Homo sapiens: one gene and its partners. The protein of the gene in region 2 purifies or fractionates together with the protein of the main gene of each other region. This does not show direct contact. Each region holds a gene or a part of one and is shown on either strand. Other genes may lie near its edges.

Evidence for each region. The genes of interacting proteins can lie anywhere in the genome.
Region 1: the proteins of UQCC2 (region 2) and CDR2 purify together in Homo sapiens (affinity purification with mass spectrometry; 2 studies listed by BioGRID and IntAct, with this or other methods). This does not show direct contact.
Region 3: the proteins of UQCC2 (region 2) and UQCC1 purify together in Homo sapiens (co-immunoprecipitation; 4 studies listed by BioGRID and IntAct, with this or other methods). This does not show direct contact.

The regions. Positions count from the first base shown.
Region 1 is NC_000016.10:22,371,598-22,379,000, forward strand, and holds the start of CDR2 (cerebellar degeneration-related protein 2), read right to left. Parts: upstream 3,023-7,403; 5' UTR 2,713-3,022; coding exon 2,634-2,712; intron 1-2,633.
Region 2 is NC_000006.12:33,708,701-33,716,651, forward strand, and holds the start of UQCC2 (ubiquinol-cytochrome c reductase complex assembly factor 2), read right to left. Parts: upstream 3,001-7,951; 5' UTR 2,987-3,000; coding exon 2,849-2,986; intron 2,750-2,848; exon of another isoform or gene 2,608-2,749; intron 2,548-2,607; exon of another isoform or gene 2,335-2,547; intron 2,152-2,334; exon of another isoform or gene 1,995-2,151; intron 1,064-1,994; exon of another isoform or gene 879-1,063; intron 1-878.
Region 3 is NC_000020.11:35,408,952-35,415,944, reverse strand, and holds the start of UQCC1 (ubiquinol-cytochrome c reductase complex assembly factor 1), read left to right. Parts: upstream 1-3,971; 5' UTR 3,972-3,981; coding exon 3,982-4,005; exon of another isoform or gene 4,006-4,030; intron 4,031-5,652; exon of another isoform or gene 5,653-5,890; intron 5,891-6,993. UniProt on the Homo sapiens protein: Required for the assembly of the ubiquinol-cytochrome c reductase complex (mitochondrial respiratory chain complex III or cytochrome b-c1 complex). Involved in cytochrome b translation and/or stability.

The sequences.
Region 1 (7,403 bases), on a different chromosome or scaffold from region 2:
AATCTGTTAAAAGTTTAGGAGTTAACATATAACTTAGCAAAACTGGGGAAAGGATACCCTTTTATTCACACTGTAGCCTTTATTCTTTGACAGGCCATATTCACAAGTTACAATTGTTGGAATTTCACATCTTCTACTCGTACTCCATATAGTTGGTTATGACACAGAGGGTTAAGTCAAAGTCCACTGTGATAACGTAACAGCCCTTTGAAAAACACAGAAATGCAACTGGCAGTAAAGAGGTTCAGATATGTGTGTGTGTGTGTGTGTGTGTGTGTGTGTGTGTGTTTTGAGAGGGAGTTTCGTTCTTGTCATCCAGGCTGGAGTGCAATAGCACGATCTCAGCTCACTGCAACTCCGCCTCCCAGTTTCAAGCAATTCTCCTGCCTCAGCCTCCCGAGTAGCTGGGATTACAGGGGCCTGCCACCACACCCACCTAATTTTGTATTTTTAGTGGAGATGGAGTTTCACCATGTTGGCCAGGCTGGTCTCGAATTCCTGGCCTCAGGTTATATGCCCGCCTCGGCCTCCCAAAGTGCTAGGATTACAGGCATGAGTCACTGCGCCCAGCCCAGACCTGTGTTTTTAAGGTTAAACTTGAAGAGCTGATGACTTTATTTTGATCAGAGGTTAAAGAGAATTCCTCGTGTAACCCTGACACGTTGCACTTGCTGCTCGGTAGATTGAAGTGTTACAGCTGTTGTTCCTAACAACCTCCCACAGCGGGAGAATGCAGCGTGGACTAAGGCACCTGATGGAAGAGAGCCATGAAAACAATTCTGTGCGAGTGCTTCAGTGCAGTTCAACAAATATTAAAATCGAGCTTCCAGTATGTGCCAAGTATTATGCTAGATGCTGGAAACACAAGAAAAAAGAACCTGCCCCCTCTATGCCCTTAAAGATTAATGCTTCTTAAATACAGGAAAGAGAAATATTTAGTTGTGATGATACAAATTAAATTATAGGGAAGTACTGCAGTGGTACAGTGGTTGCCTCACAAATCCTGGAGAAACTATCAAACTAGGCCATCAATCCTTACGGGGAAATCTGAAAACAGGTTTGTTAATATGTATAATAAATTTGTCTCTTGGACATAAAGAAGATGGTGCCAAACACTGCACTGCAACCACTAAGTAGCTTGGACTCTGTAAGTGTAATAAAGGTGAATTACTTTGGTTAAAGTGATTGCATGTTAATTTAAGAAATTATCTTCCTCCAAAAGAGGTGCTCATTTTATTTTCCTTTTCTGAGTTATTCAGGTCTACATTCTTTTCTTCTGCCATGTTCAGTGGTTAGCATGAACAAGCAACATGATCATTTAATATTCAACTAAATGAGATGTTAATTTTCATTGCAAGATTAGAGCTGAGAGCATTTACACAGAATTGCAGAAACTGAAGATGCCTGGAAAAATTCCTGAGGATTGTTCAGTACTCAGTATAGCGGTTAAGAACGTTTGCTCTGGAGTCTTAAGGAGAACCCTAGCACTCCCCAACATTACTACCTCTATTGTGTTACTGGGAGAATTAAATGAGCAACTGTGTTATGGGCCTATCAGTGTTAGGCACATAAAAAGTGTTCCCCAACTGCTAGCTCCTGCTATTAGTATAAGAAAAACAGGGGCCCCACTGGCCCCAAAGAGTGGGCTACTCTACGATTGTTCTCTGGAGACACCATCGGCAGGCCTGTTTCTAAGTGAAAGCTGGCGTGCAAACTGAAGAAAAGTGGCAGAGATAGATGCGCTCTTTCTTCTGTCGTTTCAATTGGCATCTGGTGAACTATGCCTAACAGCTTAACGCCCAACTGAAAAAAACTGTAAACTAGGATGGTAAGGAAGAGATGGGGTTTGAGCAGTGACTACAACTCTTCTTCTGAGTGTGTGGGTTCAAAAAACACTCCCTCCCACACTTAGCTTTAGGCAAGCCACTTTACCGTTTTAATCTCCGCTTTCCTCATATGGAAAATGGGATAACAAAAGTGTGTAATTGGATTGTTTGTACCTCAATGGATAAATGCTGGGATGGACGCCCCGTTCTCCATCACGTGCTTATTTCACACTGCGTGCCTGTATCCAAACATCTCATGTACCCCACAAATATATACACCTACCATGTACCCTCAAACATTAATTTTTAAAAAGTTACTGTCTCCTGGAGTTACGGTGCGGAGCGCACAGCTCCCGCTACGCCGCAAAACAACTACCACCTGCAGCAGCCGGCCCTCCACGCTGGCCATGAAAGGCGCTGGGCTAGACAGCCTGCGACGGGGCGGCTTCTCGGGCTATGCCACTTACTGCGGGACACACTGGCTCACCCGGGTCTGCCTCGGAGGAATGCAGTGAGGATTAAACTAGCTAATCCACGGAAAGCGCTTAAAACGGTGCCTGGCTCGTCCCTGGCCCCCACGCGCCTCGGGGCTGATATTCAACTGCGCATTAGCAAGGCCGTGGGCCCCGTGCCGAGGCTTCCTGCGGGCGGGATCCGCGGGCACGGCCGGCCCAGCCGCCAGGTGAGCCTGAGCCCTTCCCGGCACCTGCATCCTCCGCCGCCACAAAAAGCAACTTTTTAACAGTTTCGCAGCGGGGGCCTCCCGGGCCAGGCCGCCGCCCGCCCGCGGGGCGCCCCCGCCCTCACCTTGCTGGAGGTCCTGGTGGTCGTACCACGGCTCGTCCTCCTTCATCTCAAACTCCTCTACCAGGTTTTCCGCCAGCATCTCGGCTGGGTCTTCTAGGGGCAGCGGCCCCCGCCGCCGTCCCGCCTCAGCCGCTGCCCCGGGCTCTTCCCCGGCCCCTCCGCCCTCAGCCAGAGCCGCCCTCGGGCGGGACGCGCCGCCGCCCAGACTCCGCTGCGCCGCCTCAGCCCCGTTCCCGCCGGCGGCCGCCGACCGGCCGGCTGCCTCGACTCGCCTCGCGCCTACCGACGGCCCCAACGGCCGGGCATTACGGTGCGAACGCCTGGAGCCGGAGTCTCACGCAGCCGCCAGTCTTCACGCCGCCGCCGGGCCCAACGTGGCACTTTGGCAGAACCCTCCCCGGCCGGGGATGCGATTCAAACCCCCGGCGGCGCCTCAACCAATCGCGAGCGGGCTGCTGGCCGAGCGGCAGGGACTTCGTCCAATCGCCTCTCTCCAAAGACCGGCGGCTCGCCCGGTATCGAGGGCAAGCAGCCAATGGTGGGTCCGGAATAAACAAAGAAGGCGGGGAAAGAGTGAAGGGGTGCGGCCGAAAGCCCGTCCCCTGATCTGCGCTGTGAGGCTCCTAGGAGGGCGTTCTGGGTTTCGGGCTGGGGAGCTGGCAGAGGCGCGTCTTACCCCTGTGGTGGGTGTCCCGAGGCCGGCGCGTCTGTGGACAGGCAACGCAGGCCGGAGGGCCTAGGACTCCGGCCTCTGAGAGGCGGGCGGTTGTCCAGGGGAGTCCTTCGTGCCGGCGGGAAGCGCAAGGGTGCCGGAAGCCTGAGGTCCGCCGCCCGGCCACCCCTTCTCGCATCTTGACTCTGAGATTTGCTCCGGGTCCGGCGGGGAGACTCGAGGTCGATCGGGAGTTTGGGTTGAGAAAACGCCCACTGAGCGGTAGCTCTTGTCTCCTTGACATCTGAGCCCTGGGAATTAAACTCACGCTACATAAAACGGTGGGCACCAGACCCCCTTGAGAATCTGGGGCGGTGAGGGATGCCCGAAGCTGTCCACTTGGAGGGCGAAAATTGTAAGCAGTGTTGCAACGATTTTTAAAAGGTACCCCTAGACCACAAGTTAAGCATCTGGGGACGTGACATTGCACCTGGAGGGGACAGGCTGCAGCTCCAGCACTTAGTAGCCAGCGAGGCAGAGCACGCTGTCCTCCACCGACATAACCCAGCAAATACTGCTCCTAGGTAAAGCTTTAAGCACCATCTTGCAGACAAAGCACGGAAACTCTTAAGCAGGATGACAGACCTGAAGGTCAATGTTCTCAACCTTGACGTAAAGGTAAAGGTGCAGCTGATGGAAGACAACAGGGCCAATATCTAACTAACTTTGAGCAACGAAACAAAAAAAAATCGAGGTTTAAGTATACAATTGAAAGATTATCTCTAGAACATGAGGTAATAAACTGTTAGAAATTCAGAGAGAGGGAAGAGGTGGAGAGGAGTGTTAAATCCTGATCTATTTTAGAAGTGAGTCGACAGATAATACCTTACATTGATAATCCAATGAATAGTTTCCACAAATATGGAGAGAGCTGCCAGAACTAAAAATGGGAAGCAATTAAGAGTTTTCCGAGGCTGGACACGGTGGCTCACGCCTGTAATCCCAGCATTTTGGGAGGCCGAGGCGGGCGGATCACCTGAGGTCGAGAGTTCGAGGCCAGCCTGACCAACATGGAGAAACCCCATCTCTACTAAAAATACAAAATTAGCTGGGCGTGGTGGCGCATGCCTGTAATCCCAACTACTTGGAAGGCTGAGGCAGGAGAATTGCTTGAAACCCGGGAGGTGGAAGTTGCAGTGAGCCGAGATTGCGCCATTGCACTCCAGCCTGGGCAAAAACTGCGTCTCAAAAACCAAACAAAAAAAAAAAGTTTTCCTAAGAGGAGGAGTGATTTGAGGCTGGGGACTTTGGCTTTTTGTTATAAACCCTTCTGTGATCTTGCTTTTTTAGTTACTTGCACATTAAAAATAAGGGAAATTGTAGGGAAGGAATTATAGACTCAAGCTACTTTTTTTGTCTTTCTGTATAAAAAAAGACTTGGGTAATTTGGAAGGGGGGAAAAACTCATCCTGAATAATTCTTGTGGGTAATAAAATTCAGGGTGTCTCTCTGCCTCCCATCTTTGCTCAAACCAGCATAACCTAACCTCACGCTGATGCTGTATCAAACAGCACTTGACTCCAGGGTTACCTTACACATAGGCTGTAGGCTACTCTGGAGAAGTCTTGCCAAGGACAAGACCTCCCACTGTGGAGTTGTTACCTGAAGTTTTACCCTTCAGTCCTTAAAGGAGACTGCTGAATAGAGTGGAAAGCACAAGGGACCTAGAGTGAGAAAACCTAGAGTTCTCGCCATACTCAGTACCAGCAGAGAAGCCTTTTAGCAAACAGTTTACAGGAAAGATGATTGTTTGCCTTGCTCACAGAGCTATCTGAATCAGAGAGACCCTGAAAGCAAGTATTTTGTGCTCATTTTAAATGTAAGGCTGTGTTCTTGTGACCTATACTGTAGAAGTGCAGGTACCCTTGAGGACCAATTATGAGCATCACAATAAATAATCATAGTAATGGATTATAACCCATTGAATAAAAAGGAAAGAATCCATGAGTCCATACTGACATAAATAAATGGGAGAGAAAAGAAAACTTTCTTACAGTAGGATGCCAAGCAAAAAATGTAGAAGGAATAACACTGTTAGAAAGTAATAATAATAATAAAAGAGGAATGGTAAACTCACAAATCCCTTTCTTCAAAAAGGCAAAATGTTACTGGCACACCTGTAGTCCCAGCTACTTGGGGGGCTGAGGTGAGAGAATTGCTTGAGTCCAGGAGTTTGAGGTTACGATGAGCTATGATAGGTGACAGCAGAGCAAGACCCTGTCTCAAAAAAAAAAAAAAAAAAAAAAAAAAAAAAGGCTGTGTACAGTGGCTCATGCCGTAATCCCAGCTCTTTGGGAGGCTGAGGCAGGCAGATCACCTGAGGTTGGGAGTTCAAGACCAGCCTGGCCAATAAGGTGGCCCATCTCTACTAAAAATACAAAAATTAGCCGGGAGTGGTGGTGCAAGCCTGTAATCCCAGCTACATGGGAGGCCAAGACACAAGAATCCTTTGAACCTTGGAGGCAGAGGTTGCAGTGATCCGAGACCGTGACACTGTACTCCAGCCTGGGCAATAGAGTGAGACTCTGTCTCAAAAAAAAAAAAAAAAAAAGAAAGAAAGAAAAGAAAGTGAGGTCCTGTAAAGCCTCTTCTACTGCCCTAGTTGTCCATCGAGATATTCAGAGTTGAAATAAGATCACTTCAAACAAACTATCTTAATCACTAAAGATAGAACCCTTTGGAAAGATAGCAAGTTGGATTTAGGAATAATTGGCAATGGTGATTTGTGGAAGCTAAAGGGCTAGAATCATGCAGGGGCATTTTTTTTTTTTTTTTTTTTGAGAGAGTCTCACGCTTGTCACCCAGGCTGGAGTGCGATGGCGTGATCTTGGCTCACTGCAACCTCCGCCTCCTGGGTTCAAGTGATTCTCCTGCCTCAGCCTCCCAAGTAGCTGGGATTAAAGGCGCCCACCACCACGCCTGGCTAATTTTTGAATTTTTAATAGAGATGGGGTTTCAGCATGTTGGCCAGGCTGGACTTGAACTCCTGACCTCAGGCAATCCACCAGCCTCAGCCTCCCAAAGTGCTAGGATTACAGGTGTGAGCCACCGTGCACGGCCCCCTTCACGATTCTTATCACTGATTCGCAAGGTTCAAAGTGCCCGCTGTTTGCTCCATCGAAAACAGAAGCTCATTTTGACTTCAAATGCATATTGAAATGTTCTTTAACAATTCTCCATTTTTTTTTTCTTTTTCAGAGTCTCACCATGTGGCCCAGGCTGGAGTGCAGTGACACCATCTCTGCTCACTGTCACCTCCACCTCCCTGGTTCAAGTGATTCTCGTGCCTCAGCCTCCTGAGTAGCTGGAATTACAGGCATGTGCCACCATATTCGGCTAGTTTTTGTGTTTCAAGTAGAGTCAGGGTTTAGCCATGTTGGCCAGGCTGATCTCAAACTCCTGGCCTCAAGTGATCCGCCTGCCTCAGCCTCCCAAAGTGCTAGGATTACAGGTGTGAGCCACCGCGCCCAGTCAACAATTCTCCTTTAAAAAAGAAAAGAAAAGAAAAGAAAGATATGGAGAATTAAAGTTTTTGAGGGTCAGGCGTGGTGGCTCACGCCTGTAATCTCAGCACTTTGGGAGGCCTAGGTGGGCAGATCACGAGGTCAGGAGTTTGAGACCAGCCTGGCCAACATGGTGAAACCACGTCTCTACTAAAAATACAAAAATTAGCTGGGCATGGTGGCGCATGCCTGGAATCCCAGCTACTTGGGAGGCCAAGGCAGGAGAATCACTTGAACCCGGGAGGCAGAGGTTGCAGTGAGCCGAGATCATGCCACCGCACTCCAGCCTGGGCAACAGAGTGAGACTTCCTCTCAAAAAAAATAAATAAGTGAATAAATAAAGTTATTGATAGTTTAAAAAAGCAAAAAAACCCACAAACTTTATGTCTTTTGGTGTGTTATTGGGTTGTTTTTAAGGACACTATTTAAGGAAACTTCTTTTCCCCTGGAAAATCTTGAACAAAAATTGCATTGAAAAACTGGTGTCAGTTTTCTGTGCTAAATTTGGTGAAGTTTCCATTGTTCTTTTAGAGTCTACTCAGTCATGGTTTAGAA
Region 2 (7,951 bases):
CAGTTTAATGAAGAGCCTACCAGAATCATCTTGCTTTCTCAAGGTCTTTATAAATGATCTGGGGGTGTCAGTAGGAGTGACTCACAATAGTGTTTTCAATTCCAGCAAGGAATTGCGCCCTTCAAAAATTACCACAAAGATTTACTAAGGCCAGGTGCATTCTCAGGTGACATTAGGATGAGGTACCGCAACAGTGGTCCTGAGTAATGCACCTGCTGCCATTGTGCACTGGTTCACTCTACCAGGAATGCATTCATCAGCTGCTACAGAATCACTAACACAGCCATGAGTTGCATCTGCAGCTGGGACTCAAACCTGTGTGGGCCTTTGACTGATCAGAAACGATTGCCCTAGGTGATGACAACTCCGAAAGAGAAAACTCTTTCCTCCTTTGCTGGCTCCTCTTACACTAACAATCAAGCAAGTGAATGTTACGCTCTCTCACCTCCCCAAGGATGGAGCCGCTGACTGCTCAACTGTAAGCTCCTCAGTGGTGAAGGCCAGGTTATGGCCTTCCTCCATAGATCCTGCAATTTCCCAAACATGGTAAGCTCTCAAATCAATTCTCACCACTCAGGACACACAAATATTCCTTTCTCACTCTTCACAACTTCTCTTCATCTAGTTCTGCTACATCTGAAACTATATTCAAATTATCTTTGTCTCATGAGCCACAACCAATTATTTACTTATCCATTCAGACATTTACTGAGTGTTTTTTTATGGGCCAAGAACTAGCTAGACACTCGTAGGGGAGAGAGGGAAAGATAAAAATGGCATCATCTCTATTTTCAGGAAGCTCATACTAAAAATATGCAGGGAGTACAGCTTTAGAAAGTTCACGGGTTTGTAGAATTGGGACTAGATAAGATTCTTGCCTTAAAGATCTTTACACTTTGGGCCAGTGAAGACCACCATGAATAATGTGAGGGCCCTGGGTATCGTATAACCTGGGCCAGACACTCCCCAGGCTGCCAGCCAATCAGCAGTACAGTCACAATGATGCCACTGGGCGTGCTCCTGCTCCTTTAGGTGGGCTGGCTTGGCTCTGTTTCGGGCTAAGCTGAAAAAAAAAAAACCCATGTTCCTTCTGTAACAAGTCTTGGCCAAGTTTCACAAGTCATTTCTTCAGACTGTGTGTATATGCATCTCATTATCTCATTTCATTTCTGGTCTCTTGCCCGAGCCCCAGGCTCAAATATAGCACTGCCTACTTGACATTGCCACTTGGAAATCAGTGTACTTGGCATCTCAGGTTTAACCTGCTTAACACCGAACTCGAGATATTCTTCCTACACTTCACCTATTCCTACCTCAGTAAATGGCACCATCTTAGACCTAGATGCCCAGGCCAAAAAATATCTAGGTGCTATCTTTGGTTCCTCTCTTTTCCTTTATCCCACATCCCATATATCAGCAAGTCCTGCTGACTCAACCTGCGCATAACCTGAATCCAACCACTTCCATCTTCTGTGCTGCCGTCCTCATCCAACCCCCCACCATCTGTCGCTTATAGTACCATAATCGGCTTCTCTCCAGCCTCTTTTTTTGTTATTGCCCCCTATAGCCCACTCACCACATACAACCAGAATAGTCTTTTAAAAAGTAAATTAGGGCACATCAGTCCCCTCACTAAACATCCCCAGTGACTTCTCACTGGCCTTATAATGAGGTCTAAAGCTAATCAGAACAGATAATATCCTACTGTGCCTGGCTCCGGACCTTCACCTTAGCAAACTCCACCTTACTTACTACCCTGCAGCCATTCTGGCTTTCTTTCTGTCCTCAAACATGTCAATCTGCCTCCTGCCTCTGGACATGTGCAGTGTCTGGAATGTCCTTCCCGCCAAGTGTACATGGCTGGCTCATCCTCTTGCCTTAGGTCTCACCTATGTGTCATCTCCTCAGAAAGGCCCCACTAATAACATTACCCTTTTATCACGCTACCCTATTTTCTATCGATCACAGTACTTATCTGTCTTACGTACACTTACCTGCTTATTGTGTCCTGAACTACAATGTAAAACTTCATGCGGGCAGGACTTCACCTGTTTAACACTGCTGTTTCCCTAGCACCGTTCCAGGCATATGGTAGGTGCTCAATAAATACGAGCTATATGAATGAATGAATCCCAGAGCTGCAGCGCCAACCTGGAGGAAAGCAAGAACATAGGCCTACTACTCACACACAGCTGCGTGAGCTGAGGACCCAAACCTGCTGCACAGGCTTACAGGGGCTCAGGAAGAACGCAAACGCTTAGCGGGGACCTGCAGAGTTAACTGGGGATTAGCTCAGTCAATACACAACACTGCGAAATAATGAGGTAATGCTACCGTGACAAGGAAGCAAAAAGCTGAGGCTGTCACCAGCTGCCACTGGTGGTGTGGGTCTCAACTCTCTCTGCACCTTGAATCACCTGGAGAGCTTTTAAAACTCTGAGGTCAAGACCCCACCCCTAGAGATTCTGCATTTGAAGTTTTTGTTTGTTTTTTGATTTGTAGAGACGGAGTCCCACTATGTTGCCCAGGAGGTCATCCTGGGCTCAAGCGATCCTCCCGCCTCGGCCTCTCAAAGAGTGCTGGAATTATAGGTGTGAACCGCCGCACCCGGCCCATCTGGAGTTTAAAAAAAGCTTCTTCGGCAATTCCAAGGTGCAGCCGGGGGAGAGCGCTGAATACAACGGGCGTCGCTATCAGTAGCTCCCTGGGGGAAAAAGGGGGTCCGCGCTCACGTGCTGCCTGGAAAGAGGGCGCGCGCATGCGCAGATCCCCCTGCTAGCGCGCTCGTTGGCCCCGCCCCTGCCTCGTCCTTTCCTCCCCTCGTCCCAGCCGCCTCCCCGCCGGTCACCTGGGTATTCTCTCCCTCCCGAAAGGCCTGTGCTACCCGCTGTCGCAGGTAAGCGCCCAAGTCCCGGCCCCGTTTGGTCTCGTCCACTGGCCATTCCTCACAGAGCTTAAGAAAACGCCGGTACCGGCTGGCCGCCATCTTGGGCCCCGCGTGTTCCCGCCTTAGCGGGAGGAGTCGGCGCCGACGAATGGCGCTTGCGCACTAAGCCTCGCCGCCTGCCTTAGGAGTGGAGCGGGAGGCCGGAGTGGGCATGCGCGACTTTGTAGGCGCACCGCTACTCTCCGTGTAGGGGCGCTGCTCGCCTTTCTCTGCAAGCCGAGCTAATTCAGTCTTCGTCCTCCTGGAACCGGCCCAGCTCCCAGGGGCAAGGCGGACGTGGAGTACCCCAGAGACAGCTTTGCGTCTCTTTTTCAATGACTGCACAAGCTTGAGACTAAAAAACCCTCCCCCGAGGCCTCCGCTGTTTTGCATAAACCAATATATTTGCATGTAAATACAGGTTACTGGATGAAAATATGTTTGAACGTTGTTCGTGGGTGCCCCCGTACCTGTCACTATCCCTTGGTACTCGGCCTCAATTCCTTCTTTAGTGCTTCCTAGTTCTTGTTCTTCTCTGCCCAGTCCCTGTTAGTATCCCTTCTGTTCCCCCCTTCCTACCCCTCATAAGCCAGACATTTTTCTCTGGGAGGCGCAGGTTTTCTAGCATGAGCAATGCCAACTGTGTTGATTCAGACTAGAAAAACTTTTTTTTTCTTTACAATTTATTATTTTGTATTGTGGTAAAATACACATAACAAAATTTACTATCTTAACCATTTTTTTTAGACAAGGTCTTGCTATGTGGCCCATGCTGGTCTCAAACTCCTGGGCTCAAGTGATCCTCCCACCTTGGCCTCCCAAAGTGCTGGGATTACAGGTGTGAGCCACCACACCTGGCCTTAACCTTTTATTTATTTATTTATTTATTTTGAGATGGAGTCTTGCTCTGTGGCTCTGTCGCCCAGGCTGGTGTTCAGTGAATGGCGCAACCTCCGCCTCCCGGGTTCAAGTGATTCTCCTGCCTCAGCCTCCCAAGTAGCTGGGACTACAGGCGCCCGCCATCATGCCTGGCTATGTTTTGTATTTTTAGTAGGGACAGGGTTTTACCATGTTGGCCAGGCTGATCTCGAACTCCTGACCTCAGGCGATCCACCTGCCTCGGCCTCCCAAAATGCTGGGATTACAGGCGTGAGCCACGGTGCCCAGCCAGCCATTTTTAAGTGTACAGTTCATGGGTATGAAATAGCACTGAATAATGTTGTGCAGCCATCGCACCATCTCCGTAACTCTTGTAAAACTGAAACTCCATACTCATTAAACAATAAATCCCCATTTCCCCCTCTCCCCCCAGCCCCTGGCAACGACCATTCTATTTTGTCTGTATGATTTTGACTACTCTAGGTACCTCATGTAAGTGGAATCCTGCAGTATTTTTGCAACTGGCTTATTTTGCTTAGCATAATATTTTCACTTCAAGGTTCATTCATTTTGTAGCATATGTCAGAATTTCCTTCCTTTTTAAGGCTGAGTAATATTCCGTTGCATGTATATACCACATTTTGTTTACACATCCATTGATAGACACTTAGGTTGCCTCCATGTTTTAGCTCTTGTGAATAATGCTGCTATGAACATGGATGTACAGACATCTCAAGACCTTGCTTTCAATTCTTTTGGTATATACCCAGAAGCGGAATTGCTGGATCATATGGTAATTCTATTTTAAGTTTTTTGAGGAACTGCCATACTGTCTTCCACAGCAGCTGCACCATTTTGCACTCCCACCACCGGTGCACAAGGGTTCCAATTTCTCCACATCCTTACCAACATTTGTTATTTTCTGGTTTTTTGATAGTAACCATCATAATGGGTGAGGGCTGTATCTCAATGTAGCTTTGACTTGCATTTGTCTAATGATTAGTGATATTGAGTATCTTTTTATGTGCTTATCAGCCATTTGTATATCTTCAGAGAAATATCTATTCAAGTCCTTTACCTGTTTTTAATCGGGTTTTTTTTTTGTTGTTGTTGTTATTGAGTTTTAGGAGTTCTCTGTATATTCCAGATATTACTCCCTTCACAGCTATGTGATTTCAGAATATTTTCTCCCATTAAAATGTGTTTGTTTTATCAAGTCTTCTCTTATATGTCTCTAGCTACATCACCATGTGGACTAATTTTTGTTCTCAAAAGACTGTCCCACCATCTGCATTTTTCATAAGAAAGCCTCAGCCCCCCGTATATCTCCACTATCCTGTATTTAGCCAAGACCATCCAATGTGTACAAAACTTTGCTTCCTCCAAACCTTTTCCTTCTTGCCTTACCTACATTTTAAAGGTGAATCTAGGAGAGTCCTGCCTTCAAGAAGTTGATGGCCAAGTCTGGGAATGTGTACATAACCAGGACACAAAGTTACAGATGACGAGAGCTTTAACTGAAGTGTTAGACAATGCTAGAGAGTTTGGAGAAACAGATGTCTGCTGTTCAGGGGAGAGTGGGAGAAGATCAAGGATGGCTCCAAGAACAGCCAGAGGCAGGCCTGGGGTGGCAATGGGAAAGAGAGGGAGGAGTTTAATTTGAGGAAAGATCAATGGGTGATTTTAACTGGAATGGCTTTAACTGTTCCGAAGATGTTAGGAGTCAAGACCATTAAAGGAAAACCTCTGGGGACCAGAATGTGTGATGCCCGCTGAGGTAAGGAGAGTTCAGGGGGAGTGGAAAATGAGGCGCCCAAGGGCACCTTCTCCAGAAAGCTCCCCTGATTAACCCCACCAGGTTCCCAGCCCAGCAGTCCCTCCTTGCTCCATCCTCACCTCATAGCCATGTAGTTTTGATGACACCCCTAAGGCACAAAGGGCAAGGATTGTATCTATTTACTTACCAAGGTCCAGGCACCTAGGGCTGTGCTGGGTGCCCCGAGGCGCTGTCATAGCCGTGGCTTTGAAGAGCACCTGACTGGTCCACATCTGTCCCAGGAGGCAGAGCCAAGGTCCCTCTGTCTTAGGCAACCAAAAAGTAACATTAGGTGGCAGCAAATGGTTTTCATGCTGCTTGAGGTACAAGGACAATGAGAGGTTGAGAAGAATGCTGGGCTCCAGAGGAAGCGCAAACAGATGCTTCCTCCTAAGGTGCTCCCTTCCCCTGTACCCTAGCTTCTCCGTCAGGCTGTGGTTGTCCCTGGTTCTGACTGCCCTGCCCACCTCTCTTCCTCCATATGGAGGTTGTTTGGCATGGTAGTTAAGTAGTAGGGTTATGGAGTCTGAGAGACCTGTTTGGAATGTAGGCTTGCTCATTCATTCATTCATTCATTCATTCATTCATTCACTTACTCACTGATCTATAGCCCTGATCACTCTATCAGTATAATTTTCTGGGGCCCAGTGCAAAATGAAAATGTAAAGCCCTTTGTTAAAAAATTGTTAAGGCCGGGCGTGGTGGCTTGTGCCTATAATCACAGCTACTTGGAGGCGGGAGGATCACTTGAGCCCAGGAGTTCGAGACCAGCCTGGGCCACATAGCGAGACCCGCATCTCCCCAAAAATTTAAAAAATTAGCTGAATGTGGTGGTGCACACCTATAGTCTTAGCTGTGTGGGAGGATGGCTTGACTGCTTTGAACCTAGGAGTCAGAGGCTGTAGTGAGCTGTGATTACACCACTGCACTCTAGCCTGGGTGACAGAGTGAGACCTTGTCTCTAAAAAAATTGTTAAGAATTTCAAGACAATAACAGCAGAGCATTAAAGCAAATGTAGCCCCTTCTGAGTGCAGGGCCCTGGGCGACTGTGCAGGCCACACACCCATGAAGCTGGCTCTGAGTTCCTGTCATGTGGTAGACAAGACAGGTGAGGGCCCTGCCCCTATGAGGACAGACAGCAACCAAGCAAACATATAATAATAATAGTGCTCTATATGTATTAGCTCATTTGCTGAATGAACAAGATAATTTCAGATGTGATAAGTGCGAAGGAGAGATCAAGGCAGAGTGCTGGGTCCACAGTGATTGGGGCAGGGGAGGGGTCAGTGGTCTGGAGGCCATCCCTGAGCAGCTTGTGAGTCACCTGAGGGGGCAGCCACGGGAAGATGGGCATGAGAGGCTTCCAGGAACAGGGCAGCAAAGGCAAAGGTCTTCAGAGCAGCCAACCCCAGGCGGGTTATTTAATTGCTGTAAGCTTCAGTTTCTTCATCTTAAAATGAGAACTATGATGATAAATTAACACCGAGTATTTACTATGTGCCAGCACAATTTTTTTTATTTTAATTTTTTATTTTTATTTTTTCTTTTTTAGAGACAGGGTCTCACTCTGTCACCCAGGCTGGAGTGTAGGAGCACAATCATAGCTCACTGCAGCCTCGAATTCCTGGGCTCAAGCGATCTTCCTGCTTCAGCCTCAGCCTCCTGAGTAGCTGGGACTGCAGGTGGCCACCACGATGCCCAGTTAATTGTTTTATTTTTTGTGGAGATGGGGTCTCGCTATGTTGCCCAGGCTGATCTCGAATCCTGGACTCAAGTAATCCTCTGGGCTTGGCCTCCCAAAGTGTTGGGATTATAGGCATGAGCCACTGTGCCCAGCCCAGGCACAATTCTAAATGCCTTACATGTATGGACTCATTTAGTCCTCACAATGGCTCTCAGATTTATGTACTACTGTTATCCTGCCATTTTTACAGAAACTGAGGAAACTGAGGCACAGAGAGGATAAGGTCACCAGCTGGTAAGTGGCAGAGCCAGGACTTGAGCCCAGGCTGGGTGGCTCAGAGCCGTGCTCTTGGCCACTCCCTCAGGCACCTCTTCAGGCCCCCTTGCAGCATTATCATCGTAAACCATGTGCGTGGTGTGTTTATACACCTGGTGTAGCCTTGGCCAGTGCCAGCACAAAGTAAGCCAACACATCGCAGTGGCTCTTATTGATCATTTTCTAGGCCCTTTTCCTTTCCCTGTGCCTGAAGATGGTTTCAGCCAGTCTGGACTGACCCGCTTGTCAATCACCCAGCGCCATTCCTAGCACATTAATAGGCACTGCCTGGAATGCAGCTGGGTGGTGCCAGCACCTTGGGGAGTTGAT
Region 3 (6,993 bases), on a different chromosome or scaffold from region 2:
CAAGTATATGAAAAAATGCTCAGCATCATTAATCATCAGGGAAATGCAATCTAAAGCCACAATGAGATATTACCTTGCACCTGTTCGAATGGCTACTATAACATTGTTCCTAAGGACGTGGAGAAAGGGAACCCTTGCACACTGTTGGTGGAATGTAAATTAGTACACCCATTATAGAAAACAGTATGGAGGTTCCTCAAACAATTAAAAACAGAACCACCATAGGATACAGCAGTCTCACTATTGGATATATATTCAAAGGAGATGAAATCAGTATGTTGAAGAGGCATCTATACTAACATGTTCATTGCAGTGGTATTCACAACAGCCAAGTATGGAATTAACCTAAGTGTCCATTAGTGATGAACAAATAAAGAAAATGTGGTGGCTGGGCGTGGTTGTTCACGCCTGTAATTCCAGCACTTTGGGAGGCCGAGGTGGGCAGATCATGAGGTCAGGAGACCGAGACCATCCTGACCAACATGGTGAAACCCGTCTCTACTAAAAATACAAAAATTAGCTGGGTGTAGTGGTGCACGCCTGTAATCCCTGCTACTCAGGAGGCTGAGGCAGGAGAATCGCTTGAACCTGGGAGGGGGAGGTTGCAGTGAGCTGAGATTGCATCACTGCACTCTAGCCTGGTGGCAGAGTGAGACTCCGTCTCAAAAAAAAAAAAAAAAAAAAAGAAAAAAGAAAGAAAGAAAGAAAGAAAATGTGGTTTATGACCAGGTACAGTGACTCATGCCTGTAATCCCAGTACTTTGGGAGGCAGAGGTGGGCAGATGACTTGAGGCCAGGAGTTCGAGACCAGCCTGGCCAGCATGGTGAAACCCTGTCTCTACTAAAAATACAAAAATTAGCCGGACATGGTGGCACGTGCCTGTAGTCCCAGCTACTTGGGAGACTGAGGCACAAGAATTGCTTGAACCCAGGAGGTACAGGCTGCAGTGAGCTGGGATTGTGTCACTGCACTCCACCCTGGGCGGCAGAGCAAGACTCTGTCTCAAAAAAAAAAAAAAGTGATTTATATATATAATGGAATGCTATTCAGCCTAAAAGAAGAAGGAAATGCTGGCCAGGTGCGGTGGCTCACACCTGTAATCCCAACACTTTGGGAAGCCAAGGTGGGCAGATCACCTGAGGTCGGGAGCTCAAGACCAGCCTGACCAACATGGAGAAACCCCATCTCTACTAAAAATAAAAATTAGCTGGGTGTGGTGGCACATGCCTGTAGTCCAGGCTACTTGGGAGGCTGAGGCAGGAGAATTGCTTGAACCCGGGAGGGAGAGGTTGCAGTGAGCCAAGATTGTGCCACTGCACTCCAGCCTGGGCAACAAGAGCAAGACTCTGTCTCAAGGAAAAAAAAAAGAAGGAAATGCTCATATCTATGACAACATGGATGAACTGGGAGGATGTTATGTTAAGAGAAATAAATGAGGCACAGAAAGACAAACACTGCTTGATTTCTCTCATATGTGGAATATAAGTTGAACACACAGAAGTAGAGAGTAGAATGGTGGTTACTAGAGGCTGAGGAGATGTTTGTCAAAGGATACAAAATTTCAGTTAAGAGAGATAAGTTCAGGAGGCCACTTTGGGAGGCCAAGGCAGGCGGATCACCTGAGGTCGGGAGTTCGAGACCAGCCTGACCAACATGGAGAAACCCCGTCTCTACTAAAATATAATATTAGCTGGGCGTGGTGGCGCATGCCTGTAATCCCAGCTACTCAGGAGGCTGAGGCAGGAGAATCACTTGAACCCGGGAGGCAGAGGTTGCAGTGAGCCAAGATCACGCCATTGCGCTCCAGCCTGGGCAACAAGAGTGAAACTCCGTCTCAAAAAAAAAAAGAAAAGATCTATTGTATAACATGGTGACTATACCCACTATGAATATGTATTGTATTCTTGAAAATTGCTTAAAGAACATATTTTAAACATTTCCAGCACAAAAATATGAGGTAATGCATATATTAATTAGCTTGACTTAGCCATTTCACAATGTATACATATTTTAAAACATCCTGGCCGGGGGCACGGTGGCTCACTCTTGTAATCCCAGCACTTTCGGAGGCCGATGTGGGTGGATCACCTGAGGTTAGGAGTTTGAGACCGTCCTAGCCGAAATGGCAAAACCCCGTCTCTACTGAAAACACAAAAATTAGCCAGGCGTGGTGGTGCGCATCTGTAATCCCAGCTACTTGGGAGTCTGAGGCAGGAGAATCGCTTGACTTGGGAGGTGGAGGTTGCAGTGAGCCGAGATTGAGCCACTGCACTCCAGCCTGGGCGACAAGAGTGAAACTCTGTCTCAAAAAAAAAAAAAAAAAGAAAAAAGAAAACATCCTGTTGTACACAATATATATTTTTTGTCAATTAATAAAAATCAATAAATTTAATTAAAAAAATAGTCGAGTGAAGTTATTTCCCATGACTAGCTCCTCTTCTTCCTTTAGATTTCATCTTACATGTCACTTTCTTGGAGAGGCCTTACCAACCTAACCAAAGTAGCTCCCCAGTTTTAATTTTTTTCACTGGGTTCCTATGCCTCCCCCACCAGTCTAAGAACTCCATGAAGCCAGTATGTCTTGTGTTCAGCACATAGGGAAGACTCAATAGGTCTTTGTTGACTGAATGAAATGAAAGAAGTCCTTCAACATCCTGCCCCTCTGCTCCCTCAACCCCCAAAGCACCAGTACTTTGTCTTCTCTTCTCTTGGGATGTAATGGAAGAGGAGTCTTCTACCAAGGCCGTTCTCTGCCACTTTCCTCAAGAAGCTCCTTGCCTCTTTGATTGATTCTCCTGTATACTCTTTTTTTTTTTTTTTTTTTGAGACGGAGTCTCGCTTTGTCACCCAGGCTGGAGTTCAGTGCCCCAGTCTCAGCTCACTGCAACCTCTGCCTCCCGGGTTCAAGCGATTCCCTGCCTCAGCCTCCCAAGTAGCTGGGATTACAGGCACACGCCACCATGCCCGGCTAATTTTTTTCGTATTTTCAGTAGAGACGGGGTTTCACCATATTGGTCAGGCTGGTCTTGAACTCCTGACCTCAGGCAATCCACCTGCCTCGGCCTCCCAAAGTGTTGGGATTACAGGCATGAGCCACCGGGCACGGCCCTGTATACTCTTCACTAATCTTTTCCTATCAATATGCAAAGATGTTTCCCTTAAACAACCAACCAACCACAAATCCCAAAAGTTTCTTCCTCTACCAGGCTTCAGATCGGCACATGACCGCCTTCTTGCCTTGACTTTCAGGAGTCTGGTATCCCCCGTATTCTTTTATCTTAGCCTCCTTCTCTGGCTTTTTTTTTTTTTTTTTTTTTTTTTTTTTTGAGACAGAGTCCAGTCCTGCTCTGTCGCCCAGGCTGGAGTGCAGTGGCGCGATCTCGGCTCACTGCAACCTCTGCCTTCAGAGTAGCTGGGATTACAGGCACACACCAACATGCCCGGCTACTTTCTTTGTATTTTTAGTTAGGGACGGGGTTTTGCCATGTTGGCCAGGCTAGTCTCGAACTCCTGATCTCAGGTGATCCGCCCGCCTCGGCCTCCCAAAGTGCTGGGATTACAGGCGTGAGCCACCGCGCCCGGTCTTCTGGCTCTTTCTAAAGATTGGGATTTCCTAAAGTCCTGTTCTTTTCAACCTCCATTGAAAAGTGTTGGGGTGGAGTTTGGGAAGGAGGGGCTGAGGAGTGAGGCTGGGTTAGGTGGGGAATAAAGAGAGGGATATGAGAAGCCCCGAGGTCTGGGGTCAAGGAGACAGGCGTGGGGGAAGGATTTGAACCACTGTTACGTGTAGTGGGGGAGACAGCAGGGAGAGCGTGCCCGGGCACGACAGCCTGGTGCACAGCCGAGAAAACAACAGCGCGTGCGCGTAGCGACCTCTTTGCGCCTGCGCCCCCCTTGCCAGTCTTTCGCCGGCAAAAGGAGGACGTAGAAAAGGGGACACCGGAAACTCACTCTTCACCCGGAAATGGTTATTGAGGAACATGGCGTTGCTGGTGCGAGTCCTTGTGAGTGAAGGAGTAATTTTCTACGGTAGCTCTCTGGGTCCCGGGTTGGAGTTCGACAAGGCAGGGCGGGAGGAATTGGAAGGAATCGCAGGAGGGAAGCCTGTGTTATAGCTAGGCTGAGTGGCCGCTTTTCCGTGGGGAAACTGAGGCAGCTTCCGACCTCTTCCTACCCCGTTTTGACCTTAGCTCCCCCATCTTTCGAGAAGGGGAAGACTGACATCTGGCCTTTATTTGATGGGGTTTACTTTTCCTTCCCTCCCCCATGTACCTGCTTCCCCTCAGGGAGAGGAGCATGTAGGACACTGATTGGAGTTTCAGGAGGCCTGGGTTCTAGTCCCTGACTGTCACTGATGCATAGTGACTTTAAGCAAGTCACTTTTGGGCCTCATTGACCCTATGTGAAAAACGAGGACATTTATCTCCTGCAGTCCCTTTAGATTCTGAGATTCTCAGGGTTTCTTTCATAGGTAATAAGTCAGTTCTTAACTGTACAGTTAAGTGGAATATAGATTATTAGATTGAAAGCTGCGTGAGAATTGGAGTCATGTCTGTCTCCGTCGTTTTCACTTTGCCTAGCATGGTGTCTGGCACATCATAGGTGTTAAATGATTACTTGTTGAATAAATGAATGAAGTAAGGAAAGACTACCAGACTCTTTAGCACCCGTGTGTGAAACTACTGCACCTCTTGAGATTTAGTCCTGACCCTTCTAGCATACTCTTTTCTCTAGCAATTAAAGGAGAAAAGAAAGTGGCAGCAGAAAAAACGTTAGGATACAGAGCTTAGTTTTTAATCATGGAGGGATGGGAGAGTGTATAGTTTTAGCGAGTCTTCAAAAACTGGGTCAAAGACACTGTTTTTCATAGTAGACATGGTCTATTCCTGTGTCTAGGTAACTTCTGAATTGTTATTTTACATTTGTGTTTTTGATCTTTTTATATATGTCTTACAAGGACGACAGTTTTACTTCTTGTATTCCTTGCCAGCCTAGCAGAGTGAGGTACCCTCGACTGCTGTTCAGTAAATATTTATTTGTAGAGTAGCCCCTGTAACTGCCAGAAAGATTCACCTGGTGAAGTGATTGTTTGATTTCAGGCCAGAAATTGATTCAGAAATGAGGACTGCTGGGGAAATGGCAATTAGAATGTTCTGAATTTAGTGGTTTTTTTTTTTTTTTTTTTTTTAATCCTTCCCCTGCCACCCTTTAGGGTTTTGTTTTTTTTTTTTTTTTTTTTGAGGCAGAGTCTTGCTCTGTCGCCGAAGCTGGAGTGCAGTGGTGCCATCTCGGGCTCACTGCAACTTCTGCTCCCGGGTTCAAGCAATTCTCCTGTGCCAGCCTCCCGAGTAGCTGGGATGACAGGCATGCACCACACCACACCTGACTAATTTTTGTATTTTTTTTTTTTTTGAGATGGAGTCTCGCTCTGTCACCCAGGGTGGAGTTCAGCGGTGTGATCTCGGCTCACTGCAACCTCTGCCTCCTGGGTTCAAGCAGTTCTCCTGCTTCAGCCTCCCAAGTAGCTGGGATTACAGGCGCCTGCCACCACACCTGGCTAACTTTTGTATTTTTAGTAGAGATGGAGTTTCACCATGTTGGCCAGACTGGTCTCGAACTCCTGACCTCATGATCCGCCTCCTGCGGCCTCCCAAAGTGCTGGGATAACAGGCATGAGCCACCGAGCCTGGCCTGACAACTATCATTTTATAGGGCACTTACTACGTGCTAAGCACTTTAAAATACTTACCTAATCCTTATAACATCCCTTTGGAAAGGAGGGCGTGTTATTTCCTCTATTTTACAGATAAGAAAACTGAACCACAGAGAGGTATTCCTGGCCAGGTGCCGTGGCTCACACCTGTAATCCCAGCACATTGGGAGGCTGAGGTAGGTGGATCACTTGAGGCCAGGAGTTCAAGACCAGCCTGGCCAACGTGGTGAAACCCTGTCTCTACTAAAAATACAAAAATTAGCCAGGCCTGGTGGTGGGCGCCTGTAATCCCAGCTACTCGTGAGGCTGAGACACGAGAATTGCTTCAACCCAGGAGGCGGAGGTTGCAGTGAGCTGAGATTGTGCCACTGCAGTCCAGCCTGGGTGAAAGAGTGAAACTCTGTCTGAAAAAAAAAAAGAAGTATTCCTGAAACATTCTTGTTAGTCTTGCTTTATTTTTTCCTCTTTTTGTCTTGTCAGCCAATATTTTCCCTTCTCCAGTGATGGTTTTGGGAAGGAGGAGGAAACTAAAACACTGCTATTGTTGAATGACTACAGCAGAGAGCCTGGACATTTGATCAGTGGAACTGGACATGCTTATGGTTTTTATGAGTTGTCCTGGGCATTGCTGATCATTTCTGCTTTTCTTTGGAAATAGTAAAAATTGCAGAAAGCCACCCTGTACTTTAGAAAATTAAAAAAAAGTTGTGGTAAAATACATGTAACAAAATTTACCTTTTAAACTTTTTTTTTTTTTTCTGAGACGGAGTTTTGCTCTTGTTGCGCAAGCTGGAGTGCAATGGCGTGATCTTGGCTCACTGCAACCTCTGCCTCCCGGGTTCAAGCGATTCTCCTGCCTCAGCCTCCTGAGTAGCTGGGATTACAGGCACGTGCCACTACGTTCAGCTAATTTTTTGTATTTTTAGTAGAAATGGGGTTTCACCATTTTAGCCAGGCTGATCTTGAATTCCTGACCTCAGGTGATCTGCCCGCCTTGGCCTCCCAAAGTGCTGGGATTACAGGCATGAGCCACTGTGCTTGGCCACCTTTGAAACTTTTTAAGTGTACAGTTCTGTGGTATTGAGTGCATTTACATTGTTGTGCCATCTTTACCACCCTTATCCACAGAATTATTTTCATTTTATAAAACTGAAACTCTGAACCTATTAATAACTCTCTATAGTCTTTTCTCCCCAGCCCCTGGCAGCCACCATTCTACTTTCTGTCTCCGTGAGTTTAACTACTTTGTGTACCTCATATAAGTGGAATCATACAGTAT